Linked DNA regions of Homo sapiens. The protein of the gene in region 4 purifies or fractionates together with the protein of the main gene of each other region. This does not show direct contact. Each region holds a gene or a part of one and is shown on either strand. Other genes may lie near its edges. The genes, in order: DHRS4, ATF2, OPA1 and PRDX3.

Region 1 (7,863 bases), on a different chromosome or scaffold from region 4:
CCAAAAATACAAAAATTAGCTGGACGTGGTGGTGGATGCCTGTAATCCTAGCTGCTCGGGAGGCTGAGGCATGAGAATTGCTTGAACCTGGAGGCGGAGGTTGCAGTGAGCTGAGATTGTGCCATATCACTTCAGCCTGGGCAACAAGAATGAAACTCTGTCTCAAAAAAAAAAAAAAAAAAAAAAGGATATGGAGGCCCATGGCCTCTATCTTTCCAATGCAGCCCCTTCCCCAGCAGTACTCCTGAGCCTGTGCTCTCCACTGTGGCCTGACAGTGCTCCTCTGTTTCCTTCAGTTCCTCCTTGGCTGTCTGCTCATTTTGCAGAGTTATCTGGAACCTCATCACTATTCCATCTGTCCATTCCCATCCATTCCTTAAGGTTTAGCTCAAGTACCACCTCTGGGCCAGGCCTGTAGGCCATGTTAAGTGAACCTGGTGGGGGCCACAGGATGTTTTTCCGGGAGGATTTTCACATTACATTGCTACATGTCATATGGTTAGTGCTAATTGATCCAGACTCCCAAACGGCTCCTTCCACCATCAGGATCAAGGCCCCAATCTTGGGGTCTGTCCATCAGCCTAAGCCAAGCTTTTTTGGACTCACATTTGTGACTTTCTTGGACTCATATTTGGCTCTTTCCAATGCACATTTGAGCATTTGCCAGACAGTTCCTTAAAAATGGAATTACCCTATTCTGTCTACCATACTACTGTCTACTATTGCTTAAGATCCTCCTCTTCTAAGATTATGCAAATTATTTCTGCCAACCTTCCAATCTGTTAGCAGAATCCTGTACTTTCCATTTTTGGGTAGATTCTCCCTTCCACTCTGGGAAATAAAGTGTATGCCGTGAGCCTCAAGGGAAGAGGAGCTTCCTTTGTGAATGCTTCATATTTGCTTCAGCAGCTGCAAGGCTGGTGTCCACTACTAATTCTGACATCGACTTATATACTTTCTTTGAGACTAAAGTCCAGTACCCGGTAGTCCACAGGCAGCCAATAAAGGAAGGGAGCCTGGGAGGTCTGGGTCTTTCCTTACTGGCTGTGGGACCTTGGGAAGTTGCTCCAGCTATCTGAGCCAGGGTCTGCAGACTGAGAGAATAGTCCTTGCCTTGCTTGGGTTGTTGTCAGGTCTAGAGATAACCTGTGTAAGGCTCTGAACACAGGAAATGGCACATAGTAAGTGGCTGAAACATGGTGGGCTGCTTCCTGAGGTTCCCAGGGACTTGACTCTATAAGCTGAAGAAGAGGGGAATGTTTATTAACTCATGGGTGGGAACATGTATTTTGTGATTGTATTTACCCTTCACATCTGTTCAATTAGATTGAAAATTACTGCAGAACCAGTACCAGCTGTTTCTTTGGGGTACTCAAGGGATGATGCAGGGTTGAAGCATTAGAATGTTTTAAAATTCTCTGACTGAGATGGGATGATTCTCTGACGTTAGTATATGGACATAATAGAAAGGCACACAGTAAAAATGTGCTGCTGTCTAGGAAAGCAGGGAAGGAGGCTCAGGCTGGCTCCGTTTTCCACCTCCTGGCTCTGTGCCCATTTCCCTGCAGCTCACCGTGGCCACCAGCCGCTCCCGGTCCTCCGCCTTCCCCACATGGCACACGGTGCCCGTCACGCTCAGCCCCTCCCCCTGCAGCGTGGCCACCGCCTGGTCCACATTCTGCTGCTTCCGGCTGCTGACGACCACATGGGCCCCGTCCTGGGCCAAACGCCGGGCGATGGCGAAGCCGATCCTGTGAGCAGAAAGAGACAAAGACTGCTAAGGCCTGTGCAGGGGAAGAGGTCGACAGTATGAGCTCTGAAGTTAAGACTGCCCGGGTTTGAATTCTGGCTCTTTCTCTATATAACCCCTACGTGTGCCTACTATGTGTAAAACAGGCTTAATGGCATGGCCATTTTTGGCATTCCTTTACTTGTTTTTATTATGACCTGGACCACAGCCTCAGTTCCCAAGAACTGACATCACTTTCTACAGTTCCCACCATGGGTGACAGGCTTCATCCCCTCTTGGGACTGAGAGGTGAGAAATGAGCTGGGTTTGCAGCAGCAGCCACTTCCGTGATTTGAGGGTCTCACTCAGAACAGCCCTGCCCCCAGGTTTCTTTCTTACTCGTCTACATCATTCTCAAAATTCTATCCTTAGTTATTTTTTGGGGTGCATGTGAAAAGATGGTCTCCGGTCAAAAATGTAAATATTGCCTTGGGAGGAAGAGTTACACATTTTGCATTTGTCAGCTATTAGCATTTTACCTACATTTGTATTTTAGTTTTGTGAAGAGCTGGCATCTAGCAAAGTCCTGTAGAAATGAGGACCAGGATAGACAAGAATGGTGGGTGAGAAACAGGCTGGGCAAGGTCGGCCCAGATGTACCGACCTAAACAAAAATCTCGACATATGGCTCTGGTGTCCCATCTAGGTAAGGGGGAGGGGTTCCGGGGGACTTTCCGGTGCCCAAATAGAATGTCTGGTACATTTTCAAAGTGCTGGAGGCCGTGGGATAGTATTTTGAAATCCAGATTTCCTTGGATTTCCAGTTTCTGGTCTTCCCAGACGCTAGGTGGCGCTGGTTGACTGGGGCAGCCCAGAACACTGGGGAGACTAGATCGATAGGGCTGCACAGAGGTGGCACAGTTGTGCCAGAGGTAGCAGGGACAGGAGGGCTGGCAAGGGAGGGTCCAGGGCTAGGGGATTCGGAGTGGCTTCAGGCGGACCACGTGGCTACCTTTTTTCCAGGGCCAGACTTTGGCAGCGTGTAAGGTCTGAGGACAGGGGCACCGGAGGCCGAGGATGAGAGGCCAGTGCCTGTTTCCAGGCAGCCAGGGCCTCAGAAACTCCGGCCGGAGCACTCACCCGTCGGTGGAGGCCGTTACCAGGGCCACCTTATTTGCGAGCGGGTCCCGGCGGGTCATCCCGGAGCTGGCCATCCGCACCGAATTCCAAGCCCGGGCACAGAGGCCTAGCAGCCCCGCCTTGTGCATGGATCAGACCAGCAAGTATGGGTTCCACTCTTCCCAGGGGCGGTGACAGAGTAGGGCGAGGGGCAGGACGAAGGGCGGGCCGATTCCCTGCCCGCCCTGCTCCCCGCCCCGGTACCGCTGTGAGCGGTCTGTGGCCCTGGGCACCTCCATCCGCCGCGGCGCCCCTCCACCATCTACCTTCCGCCTGACTGGGGCTTGCCTTTCCGGGCTGGCGGGTGAGCTCTCCGTTCAAGTTGCCTGTAGGGCTCGCCCCTCCCCTGGCCCTTGCAGGAACCCGCAGGCTTTGGCTGCTGCCTTTCTGCATCTGCTTGCCCACCTTTTCTTCTCTGGGAAGTGGGGGTTTTGAGTTGGTTGCTTTTGCTTCTTCAGAATTCCTTCTCCAAGAAAGTCTGGGTCTATGTGTGTGACAGCCCACAGGAGGGCAAATGTTTTGAGACTGCCCATGGAGGTGAGGCCTGTGGTCGCCATGGAGTCCACCAGGTGAGGCTGGAAGAGCCTGGGAGAGAGACGTGATAGGGAGTAGCTGCGCCAGGCCTGGCACTGCCCTTCACTCTGCCCAAGGTCTCTTCCATCTTCACGGGCCCTGGAGGGCAGACTATGGTCATTGGCCAAACAGCATTCTCATGTCCGTTGACAAAGGGACTTCCTCCTTTACAGGGGCTAAGTGGTAGCGAGGAGGCTGGACAGTCCCTCAAGCAGTGGTGGAAATGCAAAGAACTCGGGGCACTCAAGTTCTCCCTAACCACTCTGTCCCCAGGTCTTAGCCGCCATCTTAGTTCAATAAATATTTGTTGAATGCAAAATCTCTTTATGAACTGTAAGCTACTAAGCACATAGTAGTTACTGCCACCATGTAGTGATTATTATTGGTGCCCTGGGCCAGACTCTTCATCTGTAAATTACTGAGGGTATGGATGATGAATAAAGTCCTTGCCAGCTATAAATTCTGTGTCCAAGACTTCAGTCTGCACTTCTGCCAAGTGGGCTGAAATGATCTCCCTCCTGGGTTTCCGGGAGAATGAAGAAATCTGGATGGCTTATGGTACAGTGTAGAAAGGCCCCAACAGACCCAAATGCAAGCATCTGAATTGGTTTAACCCACTGGCCTCCAAAGCCAGACTGAGAAGCAGTGCTGGTTCATGGCAGCGTTTTCACTAGTTCAAGGCAAAATGAGAAAAGGAAACAATTACAGTGAGTTTCATAAAGCTAAGCTTATTTAACAGTCCTTTATTGTGGAGTATACGTTTGCTTCTTTTTGTGTGTGTGTGTGTGTGTTAGTGTTTTCTTTTAGAAAAGATGATGAAAGCAGATGGGTAGGTTTAGAGATGTGTTATTGGTGAAATCACCAGTTTGGCAGCCTTATGCCAGTCCCTACAATTAAAGGGGAAAGAATCCTGGTTTGTGAAATCCAGTTCTAGGCATGACTTTTGAATAGAATTCATGTTTGCTCAAGATTCATTTAGTATATGTGCAGGTAAGCTGAGCAGCTGAAAAAGGGTTTCAACATTCAAAAGGGGGTGTATGGTGAGCAAGTAATAGAACGGCCTGCACTGGAATTCTAGTGTTTTCCTCAGCCAAGAAGTTACAGCTGCAATACTCTGCTTTGCTACTCAGCAGATCCCGATGAGACAGGAGAGCTTCAGTATAATTTTCCCCATGTCCAGGGAAGGCTGACTCTGACTGGTGCTCCTCAGTCTGAGCCTCATGAATTATTGACAGAGGCTGGAAGCGCCACACTGCTTGTCCTCTTGCACTGTTTGGAGCTAACGCACTGTGGGAACCCTTCCCAGGGCTCTCCATCTGTGTGTGCGGCTGGGGGAGGGTACACAGGAGGACGGCTGCGGGGGTTCTCAGGGCTTGGTTCAAAGGGACAGGCCTGCAGGGGGCGTTTGATCTCTCTTTCCCTTCTCTTCAGAGGTAGACAGGTGGACTCAGGGGCTGAGGTTGGCAGGAAGGTGAGGAAGACTACACTTCAAAGAGCAAAGGATTCTGGGAAGAGAGAATTGTGGCTTGGGTGCTTGGTGAACATTACATGGCCCTTCCTTGTGTGGGCAGGGTTGCTATTTGGCCTCTAGCACTATTTCTTTTGTGGAGAGCACAGGGGACATTAGGGAGGGGGCCTGTGAGCAGAAAAGGATGGAAGGAAGTCAAGAAGTATGGGACTCTCTAGCACTACTCCTCATCAAGCTCGCTTATTGGAGATAAGAACAGGAAATCTTGGGCTGGGCATGGTGGCTCACACCTGTAATCCTCTTTACTAACAATACGAAAATTAGCTGGGCGTGGTCAGAAGTTCGAGATCAGCCTGGCCAACATGGTGAAACCTCATCTCTACTAAAAATACAAAAACCAGCCGGGCCTGGTGGCATGTGCCTGTAATCCCAGCTACTCAGGAGGCTGTGGCAGGAGAATTGCTTGAACGTGGGAGGCAGAGGTTGCAGTGAGCCAAAATCATGCCATTGCACTCCAGCCTGGGCAGCAGAATGAAAGACTCCATCTAAATAAATAAATAAATAAATAAATAAATAAATAAATAAATAACGGGAAATCTTTCAGGGAAATACATGCATATGTGGGAGTATCTCTTTGAAATGGGAACTGTAACAGGCAATGGGATTGTTCTTACATGGAGGTGGTAACATCTGCCTATCTTGAGGGACAAATGCCTTCATGAGTGAGGGCACTACTCCCATCCTTTTCAAGGGCTGCCTGCGGTCCAGAAGAGATTTCACCTGGGGTGGAATTTAAGTCTTGCGTTTTGCAATAGCTGTCCTAGATTGAGTCGAGTCCTGCATCACTGACACAAGTCAGAATTAGGCAATGTGGGAGGGCTGGTGTGGGGTTAGGACAACTACCAAGCAGAGAAAGTAATAGTAAGAGTGTTAACAGTATTTATTGAGCACTTCCTTACTAAATGCTGGCAAGCGTTAAGTGCTTTTTATAAATTTTATTGAATATTTTTAGTCTGGTGAAATGGGTGTTTTAATGTAGGGAGCCAAAGGCCTGAGGGTCGTGACCAACTCAGCATTCCACTGAAGGCTGTATGATCTAACAGCAAACTGTTTATCATGAATGCAGAATGTGGGCAAACTCACTTCTGCGCCTGCTACCAGAAGGTTTGCTGAGGGCAATGACTCCCTGGTGCTGTGCTCCTTGAGGTTATCTACAGGAACATCTGGAGACTACTGTTCAAAGAATGCAGTCATGCAAGCCTGCACTAAGCCAAGCAGCTGACTGACAACTACCCCCTTCTCCCTATCTCCTTTACTCAATAAATACAAAGGGCTATAGAAGCTCAGGGCCCTTCTTCACTAGAAGCAAGGAGCCTCCTGACCCCTTCTTCCAAAATACTCTTTTGTCTTTGTCTTTATTCCCACATTCATCTTCTTTTGTTAAGTCCACCAAGGACTGTGGCATTTTAACTTCTTCTTCTTTTTTTTTTTTTACTTTGTGACAGAGTTTTGCTCTGTCGCCAGGCTGGAGTGCAGTGGCACAATCTCAGCTCACTGCAACCTCTGCCTCCTGGGTTCAAGTGATTCTCCTGCCTCAGCCTCCCAAGTAGCTGGGACCACAGGTGCATACCACCTCACCCAGCTAATTTTTGTATTTTTAGTAGAGACGGGGTGTCACCATGTTGGCCAGGATGATCTCGATCCCTTGACCTAGTGATCTTCCTGCCTTGGCCTCCAAAAGTGCTGGGATAGCAGGCGTGAGCCACTGCACCCAATTAGGTGTTTTAAATTCTCTATGTGAAATCAGAGTGACTGATGACAACCTTGACCACTGTGTGTGTTGCATAGTTACACTTCAGTTTTCTGGCATTGTTGGGCAATCCATAGTTTTCATAGAAATCAATTTTCTCTCAACTGGAATTTAAACTTTCAGGATCAGTGTGTTTTTCAAATCAACACATCTACTCATTAAATTATATAAATAACACATTATTTTAAAAAGGGACAGAAAATTATTTGAAAAGTAAAAGGTAACTCTTCCCTATGGTTCTTTTACCTTCTTCCCATATAGCTCTTGGCTTTGTGTATCCTTCCAGAAGTTTCCTGTACATTTACATGCATTTTTCTTTTAAAAATTTTTTCCACAATTGAAATGACACTATACATACTGTCCTTCAAATTTCTTTTCTTTTCTTTCTTCTATGCTCCAATCCCCACTTTTTAATTTCTTTTTTTAAATAATTATACTTTAAGTTCTGAGATACACTTGCAGAATGTGCAGGTTTGTTACACAAGTGTACATGTGCCATGGTGGTTTTCTGCACCCATCAACCCATCATCTACATTAAGTATTTCTCCTAATGCTATCCCTCCCCTAGCCCCCCACCCCCCTGAAAAGGCCATGGTGTGTGATATTGCCCTCCCTGTGTCCATGTGTTCTCATTGTTCAACTTCCACTTATGAGTGAGAACGTGCAGTGTTTGGTTTTCTGTTCTTTCATTAGTTTGCTGAGAATGACGGTTTCCAGCTTCATCCAGGTCTTTGCAAAGGACATGAACTCATCATTTTTTATGGCTGCATAATATTCCATGGTGTATATGTGCCACATTTTCTTTTTCCAGTCTATCATTGATGGGCATTTGGGTTGGTCCAAGGTTTTTCTATTGTGAACAGTGCTGCAATAAACATATATATGCATGTGTCTTTATAGTAGAATGATTTATAATCCTTTGGATATATACCCTGTAATGGGATTGCTGGGTCAAATGGTATTTGTAGTTCTAGATCCTTGTGGAATGGCCACACTGTCTTCCACAATGGTTGAACTAATTTACACTCCCACCAACAGTATAAAAGCGTTCCTATTTCTCCACATCCTCTCCAGCATCTGTTGTTTCCTGACATTTTAATGATT
Region 2 (7,022 bases), on a different chromosome or scaffold from region 4:
ACTATGCAAAACTTTGGTATAAATGATAATACTACTACCGTCACAGTTGAGGGTTAAGGGGTGGTCAAAAGAAATGGAAGTGGGAAGAAAGATTCAGTAACACCCCCATTTATTAAAACACCAGCAAATTAAAAGTGAAATAAATCACAATGAATTATAATACAATTTACACATTGAGCACAGAAAAATTAATAAATCTAATAATATTTATAAAAAAAGCAAAATCAGTCTTTTTCCAGAGACTAAAAACCGTTTTTCAGTCTGATCAACTGCTGCTACACCAACTTTAGAGCCAAATTTAATTTCAAGTAAAAAAAAAAAATTTACAACCACAGATTTCGCATAAATGGAAACTGGTCTTTCCTTGATTTCCCTTTGAAGTCACTAATGAGTATCTAAAACTGTTGTACTGCAGGTTTTTAATCAACTTCCTGAGGGCTGTGACTGGGAGGAAGGAGCCATAACGATCTGTGAAAGAGCAGGCTCTGTACTCTGGTCCGCCATCTGGGTGAGGACTGAAGTGGCTACAGCTTCTGCCTTGGAGGTTGAACTGACTCCATTGGATGTGCTGACCGAACTATGCTGTATAGCTTCTGTATGTGGACTACTCGGCACTGAAATGTCTTCTGAACTATCATCTTTATCAGCAGCTGGGTGGAAAAAAGAAAAATTATTCATTTTCCTAAAATCGGTAAGAATGCACCAGTATGCTGAGGCAATACACAGAGTAAAAAGTTAGAAAGTATCTTACAAAACTGATTAGACAAGTTGGTATTACAGCAATTGATATAGGTCATGAAGTAGGCAATTTTACCTGCAATAGGTCAAAAGAAGGCACAACCATGCATATGGAAACATCTGGGTGCCCACTGCCTTATGGAATAGAGCTGAAGAAATATTTGCTAAATAGTGTTAAAGAAAGAAAATGAGGGAGAGTTTGGAAGATAGTCTCTTACAGATACAATCAAACATTAAGTATCACATTTAACAAACTCAGTCTGGTTGGCCTACATGTCATTCTTATTACAAGATAAAAATGTATAACCACATGCATAAACAAAATGAATTCTTACATACAAATTATATCTTCAAATTATTCCCTCTGCATTCTCCAGAACTGTATTTATTCTGACTGATTTTCCATCTATTGCAGCCATGGATGATTATAACACCTGATTCTAATGATGCATACATAGGAGAACAAGCAGTATTTAGAATCTAAATGCCACCAGCTGTTATAGTTGCATGAATAAATTGGGATTCAAGTAAAAATCCATATAAAACTCTAAACATTGCATCTGAAAAGATATTAAGGAAAGGGCATTCTAAATATTTACGAAAATAAATCTGCAAATATTTAGACCTGAACAAGTCTCTTACATCCTTATTTTAATAGAACAGAATCCAGTAATTTCATTTAGTAAAAATTTGATATAGATAACACACAAATATTTATAGTATATGTAAGTTATGAGGAACAATGATAACATGAACACCTGGGAACCGAGCCGCCAACTTAAGAGAGAACATTGCCATTAACACTTCTGCTTCCTGGAGGTTCCTGTCCTCACCAAAGGTAATCACCACTCTGACATTTCTTTAACCATTCTCGTTTTTTCTCTGCAGTTTTACCACATAGGCATGTATCCCTAAACAATATAGTTCAGCTTTGTTTATTTTGAAACATTTTAAAAACAGTATCACACTGGATGTATTCTTTTGCACCTTGCTTTTTTCACTTGGCATTAAAACTTTTTTTATTCAGTGTTTAGGAGTGACAGTAAATAGGCTTCTAAAATCAAATCTAAGAATGTGTATTGGCCTGCTTACTAATGGCCAGATGCCCATTCTGAAAGTCAATTAGTGAAAAAAATTGTGGACATCTTATGAAGCAGGACTTAGCCTATGATTTGCAATGTAGAAGATGGAGAGGGGGATACCTGGTAGTGTCAACTTTAGCTAAAATAAAATTATTAATTTTGTGCATTTTCTGAAATATAGTTTTTACAGAATTTTTCAACATCTGCCTCAAATCCATGCATTTTTGAAAAGCAGGTTTTAAAATACATTAATGAGATGGAACCCCATCTTCTCTATAACATGCTATAAATCAAAACCATACCCCTAGATACTTGACCTCAAGGTACAATAAAACAACACCACCACCACCACCAACCACCAGAAGTAGTAATCCTTTAAAAATTATATAAAACAGAATGAATACTTAAAAAAAATTATAGATTCAGATGGTACATATGCAGGTATGTTACATGGGTATATTGTGCAATCCTGGGGTTTGGGCTTCTATTGAACCTATCACCAAAATAGTGAACATAGCACCCAACAGGTCGTTTCTCAACTAGTGCCCCTCTCCTTCACCCCCCTACTTTTCTGATCAAGCAGTAATGAATGTTATAAAATATTTATAATTCAGTTATTAAAATAGCCAATATAATCATTACATAATCATTACATGTATATAGAAAACAAAATACTGGCAATGACAGTTTAACTGGAGGGAATACTAAAAAGCTCTATTTGTTTTGTTTCACCACTATTCTTTTTTTTTTTTAAGTATTTATATGTGATTTTTAAAATTTTTTTATTTTTATCACTTTTTAAAAATTATACTTTAAGTTTTAGGGTACATGTGCACAACGTGCAGGTTAGTTACATACGTATACATATGCCATGTTGGTGTGCTGCACCCATTAACTCGTCATCCAACATTAGGTATATCTCCCAATGCTATCCCTCCCCCCTCCCCCCACCCCACAACAGGCCCCGGTGTGTGATGTTCCCCTTCCTATGTCCATGTGTTCTTATTGTTCAATTCCTACCTATGAGTGAGAACATGCAGTGTTTGGTTTTTTGTCCTTGCAATAGTTTGCTGAGAATGATGGTTTCCAGCTTCATCCATGTCCCTACAAAGGACATGAACTCATCATTTTTTATGGCTGCATAGTATTCCATGATGTATATGTGCCACATTTTCTTAATCCAGTCTATCATTGTTGGACATTTGGGTTGGTTCCAAGTGTTTGCTATTGTGAATAGTGCTGCAATAAACATACATTTGCATGTGCCTTTATAGCAGCATGATTTATAATCCTTTGGGTATATACCCAGTAATGGGATGGCTGGGTCAAATCGTATTTCTAGTTCAAGATCTCTGAGGAATCGCCACACTGACTTCCACAATGGTTGAACTAGTTTACAGTCCCACCAACAGTGTAAAAGTGTTCCTATTTCTCCACATCCTCTTCAGCACCTGTTGTTTCCTGACTTTTTAATGATCACCATTCTAACTTCACCACTATTCTTTAAAAGAACAACAGGCTGACGTTTCCCTGAATGTTGAGTTCAAGGGACACACCAGCTTTTAAAAATAAAGAGGCTGATCTGTGATGAGTGGTATAAGGAAACGTAAATACATACTGGAGTCAACAACTTAAAATGAAACAGTAAATTATAAGGGATGAATGCTTACCTACAGACTTTCAGAATTAGGTAAAGCAAATCTTTAAGCAGTACAAAGAATCAGGTACTCACAATTATGTAATTATAAACCTTACATACACATCAAATACCTTTACAATGTGATATATTTGCACCTATGTCCAGTTCTAGGTGAGGGGAGAAAATGACTGGTGTAATCACAAGCACTAGAGAGATACAGAAAACCATGCTGTACTCAAAGAGCCACTTCCAGCTCTACCTAAGCTAAAAGAAACCAGCTGTTTGGCAATTCAGTAATCTTGAAAGTTCTCTACCTATGTCCACAAGTTTCTTTTCCTTATTTGAGATAGGGTCTCCCTGTCGCCCAGGCTGGAGTGCTATGGCACGATCACAGCTCACTGCAGCCTTGAACTCTTGGGCTCAAGTGATCCTCTTGCCTCAGCCTCCCAAGTAGCTGGGACTATAGGTGTGTGCCAAAATGCCTGGCTTTTTTAAACTTTATTTTTTGTAGAGATGGGGTCCCGCTATTTCACCCAGACTGGTCTTGAACTCATGGGTTCAAACAATCTTCCCGCCTTGGCCTCCCAAAGTGTTGGGCTTACAAGGGATGAGCCACAGTGCCTGGCCTATACATATTTTCAGTAATAAAAGTATTTGTGGTTGATTAGTCCCCAAGAAGCTTTTCTTCCCATTTATAATTATAGAGACAATTATAATACAACTTTAATTATGCCCAGATCTAAAGAATGTGAATTCATGGCAATAAGATCACTTTTGTGCTTTATTTTTCATGGAACCCAAATATTTAAAATGTACTCTTAGTATTTTCATTCAGGTTTTATATTACTTAACTGTTGGGGTGACTAACTGTCATGGTTTTCCCACGACTGAGGGGTCTTCTTAGGAAGTAGGACTTTCAGTGCTAAAACTGGGCGGGACAGACCCTATGGCTGTGACTTAGTACTTCCACCTTTACTTGAAAGATTTTGTAACATTCCTTAATTTCTACTAAATCTTAGTTTTGATTCCCAAATGTTTTTAAAGATTTAGCTAGTATTACAACTCACCACTGTTAGCAAGAGCTGTGTGCTACAACATAATGAAGAGTGTAAATTTTTCAAAGGTATTCACTTAGTCAATTTCTGTATCTATTTTTACTACTACACAACAGAGAAGTCAGACTTATTTCAAAGATTTCAAACTTGAAAATATAAATTACCTGAAAATTTCTACAAAATCCAATTATCTCCCAAGATCTGAAGAGAATTAATTTTATGGTAGAACTATATTTCAGTTAATTTGATTATCTACATGACTAGACAGGAATAAAGATAGGATTATTTCCAAACAACAAACATATCCTATTCATTTCTTATATTCTCATAACTTAGTACTCTATGTACTAAAAATGTATTAATCTAGATTTTCAGTCATTTAAGTATACAGTATATAAACCTACGCATCTATACACTTAAGATATCTTGTAAATCAATTGTCAAATGAATAACTGGTTTGCATCTGCTGAGCATACATTGCCTGGATAATAGAGTCAAAACTGTTGGGATTATCTAATAAATTATCAAAGATTTAAAAATTACAGGTAATTCTGAATTGGATACAATTTAAGAGAACAGTTAATTTCCTTTTAATTTTATAAAACAATTTATTTCCTTTTAAACTATGAAAATCCAAGAGAGATTTCTTGTTAAGAAAATCACGTATGCATAAATGCTGAACTAGTAGCTTCTATAGGAAATTATGTTGTTAAGTCAGATGGGAACCATAATGGCCTCATCCCTGAAGCAATCATTGTTAATATAAATCCCAAACATATTTCTATATGGTTCCAATTTACTCCAATGTGTTTCACCATCCTGTCAAAATTACTAGATATCAAATAAGCAAGATTTATATGCTCAAAACTGACAAAAATCAGCGTTCTAAATATATATGGCAATTGAGAGTAGCTAAATCTACGGAATCTTTTAAATTAAAAAATATTGCCCATTCTGATGAAACTGCTTATAATGACTACAAGTAAAGATGGTGGCCATTAAGTTTTATCGTGAGCACCTGAGGAACTGTTTGCATCCAATACAAAATGTTTCTTTCTTTTGAATTACTGACACTGGCAAATTAAAATGAAGTGGATACATATGGTTGAAACAATCTTCACATTTACTAATATCCTGAAATATCACTAAATCATAAAGACTAAAACTGTGGGTTATATATTATAAATGTTGCCTAATGCATTCCCAACTCTGTTGTTTGTTACAAATTTGTATACTATGGACAAAATTGGCCATTTATTCAAGAGTAACAGCTGGTTCCAACACTGTGCATCTTATCAAAAAAGAAGGACATTACAAAAAGGAAAAGGCACAATTAACCTTTAAAATGCTGAAAACAAAAGAATCTCATTCTTTGGGAAAACATTTAGCAGGAAATTTACAAGCAGATAATTTAACTACTGTTCCCGTTTTAACATTTTTATAAACTAACTAGATATCTCAATATAAAGGTTTACAACAATAAAAACGTTACACAATGCTGACATTATCTAAGAAAGAACAATAGGATCTGATACCTTAAAGGGATATCATATATTGTTAAAGGCAGTCAGCTGATTTTAAAAAGAAAAATATCATCATTAATGAACGGAGGCTGGGAAAAAAGTAGTGTTTCACCCTGTCAATCTAAGACAAAGTGTTATCCTGAGAAGATGAACAAAATATCATCAAGTACTTACAGTATATTTTAAATTATTAGCTAATCCATTTTGTTGATCTATAGTAACGCTTAGGAAAAAAGCTAGAAACAGGAAAACTCAAACTCTCTAGATTCTAAAAAATTATACCTCTCTACTGCATTCTATAATAACCTTACAGAAATTCTGATATTTAATCTTGAATATTAGAAGCACAGTCTCCATTTTTAAAGTAGCAGCTCAGTTCACTCTGACGGTATTTCACTGACGTAGCCTAAGGCTATAGGTAATGGAACATTACTCACTATGATAGCCAGATTTCTTCTGCATGGCGGTTACAGGGCAATCTTTATGAGCCAGAAGAAGCTGTTTCAGCTGTGCCACTTCATTTCTCAGCAGGGTGACTTCACTCTGGAGAAGAAACAACTTATGTACCTTACCACAGACTAAACATATTTTTTACTATTTAAAACAAGCAAGGATTAAAGTATAAAATTGGACATCACTGGCAGAACATTAAAAACAAAGAAAATATGCTGATTAAATATGTCTAATCAGCACAGGGCAGCTTTTATATTTTAGCATTTATTAAAAAGCTGTAACTTGAATAAAAATTTAAGATAATGCCACAGCTGGATAGCATATTTCAAAATTGTTTCCATTTCCCTGGGACTTCTTATATATTATTGGTGACCTGTTGAAAGTATTTTTATTTTATATATGTTGCATGCTCTTCTGATTATTTAAAAAGAAACATCAAGGGAGTCAGGATGAATTTTCACTGATTCCATTCACCTAAAAATGAAAAAAATCATCCTAGAAATTCAAATAAGCAAGTTTCCAGTTTCCTAGA
Region 3 (7,088 bases), on a different chromosome or scaffold from region 4:
GACTCTGTCTCAAAACAAACAAACAAACAAACAAAAACCAAATATATATATATGTGTGTGTGTGTGTGTATATAATTTGTGTGTGTATATATATGTATTTATATCCTCGACTAGGGTTCATAGGAAGTGACTGTAAATGTTTGTTAATAAGGATTATAACATGCTTTTCTGAGGGCTGGGGAGAGTTTGATAATGATGATGGTGCAAACATGTATGACTTCAGCTAATTATTGGCTTCTCCAGGAAACCACAAAGAGTAGTGTTAAGGAACTTGGAGATCTCCCAAGAAGAACTTTGCAAAAGCTTTTATGTATAAATTTAAATATAAAACTTATGAAATCAATTTTAAACATTTCCATTTCCATTAACATCTCTCATTACCTTCCTTTCTGAAAATTTCTGATTCGTTGGATAATTCTGAAAAGGGTCCCTTTTCCTGCTAAGGTAAATATTTAGAGTTTTACCTGGTGAATTGCTCAATTCCCAGCTGAACTGGAAAATTTAGTTTAAAGTAGTAAAATTATTTCATGACTTCTGGATCAGAAAAATATTTTTAACATGTTTTTACAAGTAATTAATACACAAGTTCAGAGTATAAAAGGGTTTACAATAAATGTAAGCCTCCCTCCCACTCATGACCCACTAACTTCAAGTCCTTCCTTGACTCTGCCCTTCACTAGGGCTTATCAACTCAAATATTTTCGTGGGTTAGGCATGTAACATAAATGAGTAATGCAAGTATGTCTGTTGTATAATGTCATATTAAATTGTATTCATATAATTTATTCATATAATTTTACTTGCCTACTTGCATACTTGTGTTCTTTTGCCAAAAAAAAAAAAAAAAAAAGCTCTTTCTCATTGTTTTGGAAATGGCTGACCCTCTCAGTCCTTCATTTTCTCTCACTTTTCATATTGTAATCATCCAGCAGGTTCTTCCTGCTCACTGCACAGACAAAATCATTTCACTGAGACCAGGGCATCGCAGTAGAAAAAGAGTTTAACTGATTCAAGACCAGCCTATGCAGGAGAACTGGAGTTGTCACTCAAATCAATCTTCCTGAAGGCTCTGAGGTTAGAGGTTTTTATGGACAATTTAGTGGGCAAGGGGTAGGGAATGGATGCTGCTGATTGGTTGGGGATGAAATAATAGGAAAACATTCCTTGTGTGCTGAGTCCACCTCTGGGCGGGGCCACAGGATCACTTGAGTCATGAGTCATAAGTCTCGATGGGGTGAGTCTGAAATATACCGCAAAAAAGCAGTCTTAGATTCTATAGTAATGATGTTATCTATAGGAGCAATTGGGGAAGTCATAAGATTTGTGAGTTCTGGCCACATTGATTCCTGAGCAGTAAGGGACTATAGAAACCATACCTACGTCTTAGCACAGTTCAGGCCCCTCTCATGATCCTGTTCTCTTGGCCTTTCTTACAAAGGTGGTTTTTGGTTCCTGAGCAACGAGGGAGTTAGCTTTAGGAAGGGACTATTATAATCCTTTCTTTCAAGTTAAACTATAAACTACATTCCTCCCCAAAGTTCATTTGGCTTAAGTCCAGGAATGAGCAAGGACAGCTTGGAGGTCAGAAGCAAGATGGAGTCAACTATGTCAGGTTCCTCTTGTCATAATTTTGCCAAGGCAGTTTCAATATAAGTAGTGGTTGTTTTTCCTCTTAATTTTTACTAAGAAAAGTAGAAGCACAAGCTTCATGATAAACAGTAATTGATGTGTTCAATTTCAGAAAGATGAAGGAGTGTGAACTACCGGAGAGGACATGAGTGCCTGAAGGATAAAACTACTACTTGGCTCCTGGTTCCGAGACATTTTTTGTATATAAGAATTGAAGGTTGATGTTGTTAGGCATCCTGATATTTTTATGTGATTTTTTAAAATGTGAAATTTGTTGATTTTTATTTGGCAACAAATGTAGCATTTTTTTGCTTGTTTGTTTTTGAGACGGAGTCTCGATCTGTCGCTCAGGCTGGAGTGCAGTGGCACAATCTCAGCTCACTGCAACCTCTGCCTCCTGGGTTCAAGCAATTTTTCTGCCTCAGCCTCCGAGTAGCTGGCTAATTTTTTTATTTTTAGTAGAGACAGGGTTTCACCATATTGGCCAGGCTGGTCTCAAACTCCTGACCTCGTGATCTGCCTTCCTCGGCCTCCCAAAGTGCTGGGATTACAGGCATAAGCCGCCATGCCCAGCCCAAATGTAGTGTTATTTTTAAAACACTGCATAGGCCAACACTGTCTAAACCAAACAAAACAGGTCTGTGGGCTGAATTTGGTCCAATGGTTGCAGTTTATTATACAACAGTTTGCCCTTTTTTCATGGCAACACTATGTATCTATGGGAGATCATTCCTTATCAGGACATACAGACCTAAAGCATAGGTTTTCATGGCTAGTACGGATGTAATTTATGTGTCTAGTTCCTATACATGGACATTTATACTGATTCCAATCTTTTCCCATTTCATACAGTGCAGAAATAAACATCATCATGCATACATCTTTGCATACATGGGAATGATTCCACAGGATAAATGCCTAGAAGTAGAACTGCAAAACAAGGGCTTCATAAAACATATGATAACCATATATAAATGGTGATGGTGGTTAGTTTCTCCTTTTTTTATGGTTAAAGTCTTTTATCCCTAATTTTTCTTTTTTGTTGTTGTTGTTAAAGTCTCTTGGTTTCTCTTATTTTATTTTCTAAAATAACAAGGAAGTAACGATTACAAAGACACTTTTTGTACAACCCTACAATCCCAGGAAGATCTACAGTTTGCACAGGTTGGTACAGCAAATTGCTCTCTGGACCTGCCATTGAAACAGTCACCACAATAAATAAAGAAAATTCTAAGAGTCCTGCATTTGGGAAGTTTACTATCAATGGCTAGGTCTACTCTTGGTGGTATTGTGAGTGCATGGGTCCAGACTTATGATTCTGACAATTAAGGGAAAAGGAATTGTCTTTATGCTCTGTGTATTTGTGTATGTGTGTGGCATGGGTGGGGGGCGGGTAGTGGGGAGGAGGTGAAAGGTCCCTGAAGTAAAGAGGATGCACAGGACCCTTTTATTTTAGTCCCTAAAAATTGGCTTCATAACCGTTCACAGGCCACATCCCTTTTACGGGCCCTGGTTTCCTTACAAAACATAAAAGGTTTGTGTTGGAAGGGGAAAGGAGTATTTAAAGTGATGGAGGAGAGGAGCTCAAGATGGCTGAGATCTGGGCCTGTCCAACATTGAGAAATTTGGGAGGGGAGCCATCAAAGAAGCCTGGGAGCAGCAGTTCCAGGGAAAAAGGAGAATGTGATGGCCAGAGAGCCAAAAGAAAAAGTAGTTGAAGGAGTGCTCAGCACTAGGCATCTGAACTGAATGCTGTGGCAGGCTCACTGGCCACAAACAATAGGGAGCTGGTGGAGGCCTTGACGAGGACCATTTCAACAAACTGGTGGGCTTAAAATCCGGAAGAAACAGTTGAACAAATCATTTTGACGCCTTTTATAAACCACACAAGCTTATTCCAAACCCGTTACTGGCCTAACTGATTTAAGTCCCTTTCCCATCTGATCCTCAGAGATTCTAAGGGACTTAGCCTATCCATGACTCTTCGTCCTGCTTCTCACCTCCCATGATTGCCCTAACGATGTGAAAGTGCTTTCAAACAAAGATGCCCAAGAAAGAAGGTAGGCAAATGTGCAAGCATTAGTTTGTAGTACGCTATTACTGTATTTCACCTTGCACTCTCTAGTTTCCTTCGTGCTCCCTCAATATCCAACTCTTAATAAATTCATGGCTCCCGGTGAGCATTCATCAATTCTCATTCCACGCCTTTAGCCCTTCCCGTTCCCGCCCAACTCTCGCTCCCTCCCCTGGCCAAATCTCTAACCTGCAAGGCTAATTCCGAATTCCAAATCGGAAGCAAGAGGGCGGGGCCCCGTGAGAGGCGATGGATTGCTCCAGTCCGTTCCCGACGCACTGTGCGCATGCGCTGGTCCTCCGCGGACCGTTCGTGCTGCCCGCCTAGAAAGGGTGAAGTGGTTGTTTCCGTGACGGACTGAGTACGGGTGCCTGTCAGGCTCTTGCGGAAGTCCATGCGCCATTGGGAGGGCCTCGGCCGCGGCTCTGTGCCCTTGCTGCTGAGGGCCACTTCCTGGGTCATTCCTGGACCGGGAGCCGGGCTGGGGCTCACACGGGGGCTCCCGCGTGGCCGTCTCGGCGCCTGCGTGACCTCCCCGCCGGCGGGATGTGGCGACTACGTCGGGCCGCTGTGGCCTGGTAAGTGCAGGCTCTAATCTGGCCCCGTTAATTCTGGGGCCTCTTGAGAGTGGGGCTGTCTTATCTCTATCTCCAAAAATGTGCAGGTGACTCTCAGGCCAGGCCGACGGCAGTTGGAGAATTCCCAGATGTTCTTGAGGACCCAGAATGACAGGAGCCCTGGCTGGGCTTACGTTCGGAGCCGGCTTCAATACTGGCCCTTTTCTCTGGCCCTACCCAACCCGAAAATTCTGGACGCCTCTCAATCTTGGCCCGTCTCTATTGTCCTTTTGTCTCTGCCCTTTACACCCTTGTGTCTTCAGTGTTCTGTCTGTCTCTGGTTGCCTCTTTTGCCTTTTTTCTGTCCTCTCCCTGCCAGGTTTGGCTCTGTCCATGAGTCACCTCTCTCCACATTTCTCCTAACTCTCGGTGTCTTCTTTTTCTTCCATTTCCACGCCATGTGTACATTGCATCTTCAGGTACCTGGGCTCTTCTATCGGGGAAAGGGGCGTCCGTCTCTTTCCCTAGCCCGCTGATAGAAGTCAGAACTAGAGCAATGACGCACACGGTGTCAGAGACGGTGATTCGAGATGCCCTTTCAATAGCAGCTTTTTTCTGTGTTTCGGGAGGGAGACTTACTTTTTGATGCAAGGTCGTGAACGTGGCACCACCTTTCTAATCTCAATCATTGTTGCCCTGGGGTGGTTTAATTCTAAATAGAAAATCATAGAAATCTTTTCATTTCTGTGCGTTACTATATGCATTGTAATGAGATTAAATTGGATTTTATAGGAAATTTTGTTCTAGTATCATTAGATACCTTCAAGCTTAGCTCATTGTTGCAGGCATTTGATAGGAAGTAAGATGCATCAAGCAAAATTGGAAAAACGTGGTTTTCCTGAATTAACTTCTAAGCAGTTGTTTTGAATTTTTTCCAGACCTTTTTAAGTGGTATAGATAATTTATCGTGTTTATAAGGAATGGAATGCATTCGTTAGTTTGTTTTTGTTTTGTTTTGAGACGGAGTCTTGCTCTGTCGTCCAGGCTGGAGTGCAGTAGCGCTATCTCGGCTCACTGCAACCTCCGCCTCCCAGGTTCAAGCAATTCTCCTGTCTCCGCCTCCGGAGTAGCTGGAATTACAGGCACGCGCCAGCACGCCTAGCTAATTTTTGTATTTTTAGTAGAGAGGGGGTTTCACCATTTTGGCCAGGCTGGTCTCGAACTCCTGACCTCATGTGATCCACCCTCCTCGACTTCCCAAAGTGCTGGGATTACAACCGTGAGCCACCGCGCCCGGCCCAATTTGTTTTATATAGGTTAACTGGAGTCCAAAATACAGAACTAGATGAGATAACAATAGTTAACAGTGTTAGTCAGTTAGAATTATTGCATAGGTATTTTTAATCTCATGGAATTTTAGTCTTTGAGTAAGTTCACAGCCCTTGGTATTAAAGTAAGTTATTTACAACCCTTGCATTTCTACTTCTCAATATTTAGTGAGGAAACATATCTGATTTTCTTTAAATAAAAAGAGAAAAGACTGCAGAAGATAGCATTCTCTGTTGGAGCAATTAAGATGTATAAGAAGAACTACAAAGACGGAGTTTTAAAACAAACTGATTTATAAGTGGTATTTATTTAATTGGCTGTCATTGGGCTAAATTATTTCTAAAGTTACCATGGATGCCATTGAGTCATGGCTTAAAAATGTCTCCTGGTGATGGCACAGTTTAGCTACCTAAAGAAGTAGAGATGTGGGAAGCCAGAAGCCCCAAGCTCTGCAGTTTTTCTTTTGCTATAGTTCCTTTGCATGTTGTGAAAGAATACAGTTAAATTCCTGCTCCCTAACAGATGAGAGCATAAGCATTTCTTTGGGCATACATATGTAAATACATGCTCATGGACATGTGAAAAGATCAATACTAACATTTGGGTGCAATAAATAATTGTGTAAAATTATTTTTAAAAGAATTACATATTAGGAAATGATATATTGATTAAAAGTGATAGTCAATGAACAAGAGAGTAGATTTCTGGGGGAAACCTATTTTGCATCATACTTGATTTTTAGTTTTGACTGAATATTGAAGTCTATATTCAAAATTCTTTTCCTTTAGAACTGTAAAGGCATTGCTGCATTTTCTTCTAATGTAATTGTTTATTGCTGCTGAGAATTCTTATGACAATCTGATTTTTTCATCTTCATGATTATCTTGTTTTTCCCTTCATGGAATCTGTTAGGGTCTTGACTTTATCCTTTATCCTAAATTTCTCAAGGCTTGGACCAGGTGTGGGTTTGGTTTTGTTTTCTTTTGCTACTCATTTGACTTGGCACACTCAGTGGGCCTTTCCCTTTATCTTTCTTCATTTCTGAGACGTTTTTCTCTCTTATTTTTTATTATCTTCCTTTCATTTTTCCTGTCCTTTTTCTTTCTAGACATCTCTTAGGAGGATAGTGGTCCTCTTAGATTGATATGTTATGTCCGTGATTTCCAAAGTAAGATTTGTACTCGTCGTCTGTTAAAAGGAAAAGCATACATATACCCTATGTATATATGCACACTTTTTTATTTTTAAATTATATATGTATCTGTACTAATTATTTACATTGTAAGTCAACCCTAACATAATCTTAAAGGATAAGATACAAAACATACTGCATCTAGAAGCTTCAGTACTTTCTTCCTGAATCCCAGTAGATCCTTTTGTTCATCCCACGGGATGCATTCCGCCCCCATCCTCCCACTCCCTTTGGATACCACATTACCACAGCTCTGCATCACTTAACTTTCCTCTTATGTTTTTCACCTTTTTTTTTTTTTTTTTTT
Region 4 (7,509 bases):
GTTTCGCTCTGTCACCTAGGCTGGAGTGTAGTGGCATGGTCTCGGCTCACTGCAACCTCCGCCTCCCAGGTTCAAGCAATTCTCCTGCCTCAGCCTCCCAAGTAGCTGGGATTCCAGTAGCACACCACCACACCCGGCTTATTTTTTTTAAGTATTTTTAGTAGAGACGGGATTTCACCAGGTTGGCCAGGATGGTCTTGAACTCCTGACCTCAAGTAATTCGCCTGCCTTGGCCTCTCAAAGTGCTGGGATTACAGGTGTGAGCCACTGTGCCCAGCCTCGATTTCAGTGATCTTAGACGTATTGAGGGGAGGTATGGGGCAGAAAGAACAGAAAGGAATGGATGCAAGAGATGTGTCAAAACTGAAAAGGACTTGCTTCTACCCAGGAATGAGCGACAGAGTAGTTCCAATGTCAAAATGCCTGACACCGCCATGAACAGAAACAGGAGGCGCTGCTGGGGATGAGGATTCGAAACCAGTGGAGTAAAGTTTTAAGCCTGTGGTATCACATCACTACTAGAAATATTTTGAAGCTCCAGGGTAGTAAAATTGCGAAAGCTCTTAGAACATTTTGCCCACAAACAAAGGCTTTACTAAAGTATATCCCCACAAACCATTACATATTAAATACGGGCTTTTTCAAAGGCTAGTCAAATCTAGACAAGGTATTTTCAAATACCACTCATTATCTGAGGCTGATCTTAGCAAAGCCCATATCCTAGAGAAGGGAGTGTAAATCTCAAGAAACAGCTAAATTTCGCTCAGATTACAGATACCATTAGACAGGTCTGGTTCCTAAGTGGCCAGCTGGGGCCATTACACAGGTTTGAATCTTAGAGCAGCTGCCCTCTCAGGTCCCCCACAGGCTGCCCACCACTCACAGCTCTTCAGACACACTAGACTCAGAAGGCATCTGAGCTCCCAGTAACACCCTCCTCAACACAGTGGATTAGAAACTCTGACAACCAACATGGAAATGTGACAAGGGCAGTTTGCCTCAGTGATTCTCAACCCTGGCTGCACGTTAGAATCACCCGGCACATCCTGGTCTCACCCCACAGACTAACTTGTCTGGGGTGGGACGGGGGCAGTGCTGTGTTCCTGAAAGCTCCCAGGTGACTCTAACGTTTGGCCAGGGTTCAGAGCCCCTGTCCAGAGACGATGGTTCATTTTTCCTTTACCTGGCTCCAGCCAAGACATGACATAACACTTACTGGTGCTGAATAATTTTGCTTGACTGGAACCAGAACACAATAAATTTGTCAAGCTCGTTCTTCCACATGCAGCAGGCCTGAGGGCTGCAGTGGCAGAAATGCCCCAAGGAATGGCACTCACATGTCGGGCAACCTGGAAAGAGAAACTTTTTATTAGAAAGTTTTCCTGGACTGGTGACTGAAGGCTGAAAGGGCATCGTGCCAACGGTGGTTTCAGCTGTCCCTGTTCCTGTGAACCAAATAGCAAACCCCAAACTCTAAGAGCATGGATTGGATCTGCATGTTCTTAACACTCCCTTCTGCTTCCTTCTCCTAGGAGACTGGAAGGTGGAGAGGAACTATAAGAACACAAAGACCGGCTGGGCGCGGTTGCTCACACCTGTAATCCCAGCACTTTGGGAGGCCAAGACGGGTTGATCACCAGGTCAGGAGTTCGAGACCAGCCTGGCCAAGATGGTGAAACTCCATCTCTACTAAAAACACAAAACTTAGCCAGGCGGCGGTGGCGGGCACCTGTAATTCCAGCTGCTTGGGAGGCTGAGGCAGGAGAATTGCTTGAACCCGGGAGGCAGAGGTTGCAGAGCCGAGATCGCGCCATTGCACTCTAACCTGGGCGACAACTCCGTCTCAAAAAAAAAAAAAAAAAAAATCAGAAACTCCATGCGCTTAAAGCAACACAGGGTTCAGAAGCCAGGGGACTTGTGCAGGCTTTTCCCAGCACTATCTGCTGAGTATGTTCTACCATTTCAAGGTTTTCCTTAGAAAAACAAGGCCCCTCCAGCACCAGCGACAAGTAAACAAGAAGAGCCAAATTCAGCCTCTGGGAGTCTGTTAAAGGCTCAAGGGACATGTTTACTCAACTTTTTTTTTTTTTTTTTGAAACAGAGTCTCGCTCTTTTACCCAGGCTAGAGTGCAGTGGCGCGATCTCGGCTCGCTGCAGTCTCGACCTCCTGGGCTCAAGTGATCCTCCCACCTTAGCCTCCCCAGGAGCACTGACCACCATGCCCGGCTATTTTTTTTTTTAGAGACAAGGTCTCACTATTATTGTCCAGGCTGGTCTCAAACTCCTGGGCTCAAGTGATCTGCCCGCCTCGGCCTCCCAAAGTGCTAGGATTACAGGCGTGAGCCACCGCACTCTGCCGGTTTGCTCAACTTTAATGTTCAAAATGACTCAGGAGAACGAAAGGGGCTGTGTTGAACCCCACCAGAGAAAGCCGTGTACCAAAAGAGCACGACGCATTGCCCACAGTTAAGCAGGAAACAGCAGCAGAAACACGCGGGAGTGGGATTGGGAGGGAAAGCCTTTGTGAGTTTTTTAGCACTTTGCGCGTTTTTATCCAGTATTTAAGGGGCTGTTCACAGCAACGCCTTGATGTAGGCATCATTCTTTCCATCTTAAGTACACAGTCTGAGAAAGGCGAAGGCGCTTGCCCAAGATCACAGGGTCGGTGGCAGAATCAGGGCCAGGACCTTAAGTGGAGATGGGCCTGGGGACCGGGGACGCCGAAAGAGGAGGGACTCGGGGAAGAGACCGCGAGGATGGAGTGGGGAAGGGCGGTTCTGCGCAGGCGCATGGAACCTTCCCGGAGGGAGGCCTCTGGGTCCGTTACCCGCGGAAACCCTCCAAGAAGGGCGAATGGCCCTCATGCCCAGAAGCGCGGGGTCCTGTCTGAGAAGCACGTTCCCGGAGCCACCAGTGTCTCCACGCCTGTCCCCAGCCGACAGCCACTCACCGACGCTCGGAGCAACCGTCCTACAGCAGCCGCCATCTTCAGTGCACTCGGGCGCCACGGGGCGGGCAGAGACGCAGGGGCGGGGCCTACGGGGTGGTGAGCGGGCCCTCTGCTGGTGGGGGGGCGGGGCCGGAGGAGCCACCGCCTCCCCGCCTCCTGGAGACCCTGAGGGAGAAATTCCCTTTAAGGCTGAATGCTTGGGCAAGTGACACGTGGTTTTCCTACTGTCGCCCCAACCTTAAAAGAACGAATCCAGGCGGGGCATTAGGTATTTGTTTCCATATTTCCCACTGTTTTGTTAACCTTGTGTGGATTACTGTGTCTAGTATTTCTGTGACAGGATCCCTTTCTTATTTCAGCCTCAGGTAGAGACTTCCGGCTTCTGTATGAAATGGAATTAATTACAAATGCAGTTTTAGTCCGTTAATAAGCTAAGTGGGCTAGACACATCAAGGCTTTGTTGGCCTGAAATCCGCTGGAATTGTGTGTGGTCTAACATTTGGCCTCTCTTCCCAAAATTGGGAAAACTGGGACAAATTTAAAATTTGGTTTTTGTCTATTAATGAAGCCAAGTGTTCAGTGGTGAGCATAGTACTTGAAGCAACCACATCAAACATAGATAAAAATCACACCGTGGCCTTACAGTAAGTGTGACAAATTGCAGTCTTGGAGCTGGTATTTTCTTTTCTCTTTTCTTTTCTTTTCTTTTTTTTTTTTTTTGAGACTGGGTCTTGCTCTGTCGCCCAGGCTGGAGTGCAGTGGCATGATCTTGGCTCACTGCAACCTCTGCCTCCCGGGTTCAAGCGATTCTCCTGCCTGAGCTTCATGAGTAATTGGGATTCCTGAGCAGCTGGGATTACAGCCGCCTGCCACCATGCCCAGTTAAGTTTTTGTATTTTAAGTAGAGATGGGGTTTCACCATGTTGGCCAGGCTGGTCTCAAACTCCTGACCTCAAGTGATCCGCCCACCTCGGCCTCCCAAAGTGCTGGGATGATAGGCATGAGCCACTGCACCCGGTCTGAGTTGGTATTTTCCAATCACTAGTCATTCAATTAGCAACTTCGTTTCTCAAGTCTTCTTATCACCAAATATCACTTACTATTTTCTTTAAATTGGCTTTCTTTTTTTTTTTTCCTTTTCTTTTTTGAGACAGAGTCTCACTCTGTCGTCCAGGCTAGAGTGCAGTGGCACAATCTCGGCTCACTGCAACCTCTACCTCCTTGGTTCGAGCGATTCTTCTGGCTCAGCCTCTCGAGTAGCTGGGATTACAGGCGTGCACCACTAAACCCGGCTAATTTTTTTAGTATTTTTAGTAGAGATGGGGTTTCACCATATTGGCTAGGCTGGTCTTGAACTCCTGACATCAGGTGATCCTCCCACCTTGGCCTCCCAAAGTGCTGGGATTACAGGCGTGAGCCACCACACCCAGCCCAGTATATTTTCTAAAATCATCTCAGGTACCACTAGGCGCCACCCTGGGTACCAGTCCCCAGATGTGGAAAGGACTGCCTTGGATGTGTGGGGACACACGTTTCGACTATTTCACCTCACACCTTCCTTGTGTTTGTTTAATTGGTTTTAATTATGTCTGTGTTTAGCAGATGATTGAAAAGGAGACAATCATTTTGGAGCTCAAAATCGTACTGTAGGCCGGGCGCAGTGGCTCACATCTGTAATCCCAGCACTTTGGGAAGCTGAGGTGAGTGGATCACCTGAGGTAAGGAGTTCAAGACCAGCCTGACCAACATGGTGAAACCCTTTCTCTACTAAAAATTGCAAAATTAGCTGGGCATGGTGGTGCATACCTGTAATCTCAGCCACTTGGGAGGCTGAGGCAGGAGAATCACTTTAACCTGGGAGGCAGAGGTTGCAGTGAGCCGAAATTGAACCAGTGCACTCCAGCCTCAGCAACAAGATTGAAACTCCGTCTCAAAAAAAAAAAAAAAAATACTGTAGTTCACAATGGAATATTATTTATCCATAAAAGGAATGAAATACTGATATATGCTACAACACAGATGAACTTTGAAAACACTAGCTAAGTGAAAGAAGCCAGACACAAAAGAACAAATAGTGTGTGTTTCCTTTTATATGAAACATCTAAAATAGGTAATTCCAAAGGGACAGAAAGCAAATCAGCAATTGTTAGGGACTGGGAGAAGCTGGCATGGGGACTGACTATTTATTTTTTATTTTATTTATTTATTTTTGAGACAGAGTCTCCCTCTGTTGCCCAGGATGGAGTACAGTGATGCAATCTCAGCTCACTGCAACCTCAGCTCACTGCAACCTCTGCCTCCCAGATTCAAGCAATCCTCCTGCCTCAGTCTCCCGAGTAGCTGGGACTACAGGTGTGACCACCATGCCCAGCTAATTTTTTTTTGTATTTTTTAGTAGAGACGGAGTTTCGCCATGTTGGCCAGGCTGATCTCGAACTCTTGACCTCAAGTGATCTGCCTGCCTTGGCCTCCCACAGCGCTGGGATTACAGGTGTGAGCCAGTGCGCCCAGCCGGAACTATTTAGTAGGTACAGGATTTTCTTTTTTTTTTTTTTTTAATTTTATTTTTATTGATCATTCTTGGGTGTTTCTCACAGAGAGGGATTTGGCAGGGTCATAGGACAATAGTGGAGGGAAGGTCAGCAGATAAACAAGTAAACAAAGGTCTCTGGTTTTCCTAGGCAGAGGACCCTGAGGCCTTCTGCAGTGTTTGTGTCCCTGGGTACTTGAGATTAGGGAGTGGTGATGACTCTTAACGAGCATGCTGCCTTCAAGCATCTGTTTAACAAAGCACATCTTGCACCGCCCTTAATCCATTTAACCCTGAGTGGACACAGCACATGTTTCAGAGAGCACAGGGTTGGGGGGTAAGGTCACAGATCAACAGGATCCCAAGGCAGAAGAATCTTTCTTAGTACAGAACAAAATGAAAATTCTCCCATGTGTACTTCTTTCCACACAGACACGGCAACCATCCGATTTCTCAATCTTTTCCCCACCTTTCCCCGCTTTCTATTCCACAAAACCACCATTGTCATCGTGGCCCGTTCTCAATGAGCTGTTGGGCACACCTCCCAGACGGGGTGGTGGCCGGGCAGAGGGGCTCCTCACTTCCCAGTAGGGGCAGCCGGGCAGAGGCGCCCCTCACCTCCCGGACGAGGCGGCTGGCTGGGCGGGGGGCTGACCCCCCCCACCTCCCTCCCGGACGGGGCGGCTGGCCGGGCGGGGGGCTGACCCCCCCCCACCTCCCTCCCGGACTGGGCGACTGGCCAGGTGGGGGGCTGACCCTCCCACCTCCCTCCCGGAAGGGGCGGCTGGCCGGGCAGAGGGGCTCCTCACTTCCCAGTAGGGGCGGCCGGGCAGAGGCGCCCCTCACCTCCCAGATGGGGCGGCTGGCCGGGCGGGGGGCTGACCCCCCACCTCCCTCCCGGACGGGGCAGCTGGCCGGGCGGGGGGGCTGAACCCCCCACCTCCCTCCCGGACGGAGCGGCTGGCCGGGCAGAGGGGCTCCTCACTTCCCAGTAGGGGCAGCTGGGCAGAGGCGCCCCTCACCTCCCGGACGGGGCGGCTGGCCGGGTGGGGGGCTGACCCCCCACCTCCCTCCCGGACAGGGCGGCTGCCGGGCGGAGACGCTCCTCACTTCTCAGACGGGGCGGCTGCCGGGCAGAGGGTCTCCTCACTTCTCAGACGGGGCGGTTGCCAGGCGGAGGGTCTCCTCCCTTCTCAGATGGGGTGGCTGGGCAGAGACGCTCCTCACCTCCCAGACGGGGTCGCGACCGGGCAGAGGCACTCCTCACATCCCAGACGGGGCGGTGGGGCAAAGGCACTCCCCACATCTCAGACGATGGGCGGCCGGGCAGAGACGCTCCTCACTTCCTAGATGGGATGGCGGCCGGGAAGAGGCGCTCCTCACTTCCTAGATGGGATGGCGGCCGGGCAGAGACGCTCCTCACTTTCCAGACTGGGCAGCCAGGCAGAGGGGCTCCTCACATCCCAGATGATGGGCGGCCAGGCAGAGACGCTCCTCACTTCCTAGACGGGGTGGCGGCCGGGCAGAGGCTGCACTCTGGGCACTTTGGGAGGCCAAGGCAGGCGGCTGGGAGGTGGAGGTTGTAGCGAGCCGAGATCACGCCACTGCACTCCAGCCTGGGCACCATTGAGCACTGAGTGAACCAGACACCGTCTGCAATCCCGGCACCTCCGGAGGCCGAGGCTGGCGGATCACTCGCGGTTAGGAGCTGGAGGCCAGCCCAGCCAACACAGCGAAACCCCATCTCCACCAAAAAAATACGAAAACCAGTCAGGCGTGGCGGCGCGCCTGCAATCGCAGGCACTCGGCAGGCTGAGGCAGGAGAATCAGGCAGGGAGGTTGCAGTGAGCCGAGATGGCAGCAGTACCGTCCAGCTTCGGCTCGGCATCAGAGGGAGACCGTGGGGAGAGGGAGAGTAGGGAGAGGGAGAGGGAGAGGGAAGTCCAGGATTTTCTTTTGTGGTGATGAAAATGTTTTGGAACTAGATAGAGGTGGGTATAACATTATGAATTAACTAAATACCCCGAAT

The links.
Region 1: the proteins of PRDX3 (region 4) and DHRS4 purify together in Homo sapiens (affinity purification with mass spectrometry; 3 studies listed by BioGRID and IntAct, with this or other methods). This does not show direct contact.
Region 2: the proteins of PRDX3 (region 4) and ATF2 purify together in Homo sapiens (co-immunoprecipitation; 2 studies listed by IntAct). This does not show direct contact.
Region 3: the proteins of PRDX3 (region 4) and OPA1 purify together in Homo sapiens (affinity purification with mass spectrometry; 4 studies listed by BioGRID and IntAct, with this or other methods). This does not show direct contact.

What each region holds. Positions count from the first base shown.
Region 1 is NC_000014.9:23,948,923-23,956,785, reverse strand, and holds the start of DHRS4 (dehydrogenase/reductase SDR family member 4), read right to left. Parts: upstream 3,017-7,863; 5' UTR 2,998-3,016; coding exon 2,870-2,997; exon of another isoform or gene 2,589-2,869; intron 2,039-2,588; exon of another isoform or gene 1,752-2,038; coding exon 1,574-1,751; intron 1-1,573. UniProt on the Homo sapiens protein: NADPH-dependent oxidoreductase which catalyzes the reduction of a variety of compounds bearing carbonyl groups including ketosteroids, alpha-dicarbonyl compounds, aldehydes, aromatic ketones and quinones.
Region 2 is NC_000002.12:175,074,186-175,081,207, forward strand, and holds part of ATF2 (cyclic AMP-dependent transcription factor ATF-2), read right to left. Parts: intron 6,581-7,022; coding exon 6,475-6,580; intron 903-6,474; exon of another isoform or gene 815-902; intron 683-814; coding exon of another isoform or gene 675-682; exon of another isoform or gene 651-674; coding exon 424-650; 3' UTR 1-423. UniProt on the Homo sapiens protein: Transcriptional activator which regulates the transcription of various genes, including those involved in anti-apoptosis, cell growth, and DNA damage response.
Region 3 is NC_000003.12:193,589,129-193,596,216, forward strand, and holds the start of OPA1 (dynamin-like GTPase OPA1, mitochondrial), read left to right. Parts: upstream 1-4,079; 5' UTR 4,080-4,249; coding exon 4,250-4,281; intron 4,282-7,088. UniProt on the Homo sapiens protein: Dynamin-related GTPase that is essential for normal mitochondrial morphology by mediating fusion of the mitochondrial inner membranes, regulating cristae morphology and maintaining respiratory chain function.
Region 4 is NC_000010.11:119,175,805-119,183,313, forward strand, and holds the start of PRDX3 (thioredoxin-dependent peroxide reductase, mitochondrial isoform a precursor), read right to left. Parts: upstream 3,009-7,509; 5' UTR 2,987-3,008; coding exon 2,951-2,986; intron 1,350-2,950; coding exon 1,217-1,349; intron 1-1,216. UniProt on the Homo sapiens protein: Thiol-specific peroxidase that catalyzes the reduction of hydrogen peroxide and organic hydroperoxides to water and alcohols, respectively. Plays a role in cell protection against oxidative stress by detoxifying peroxides.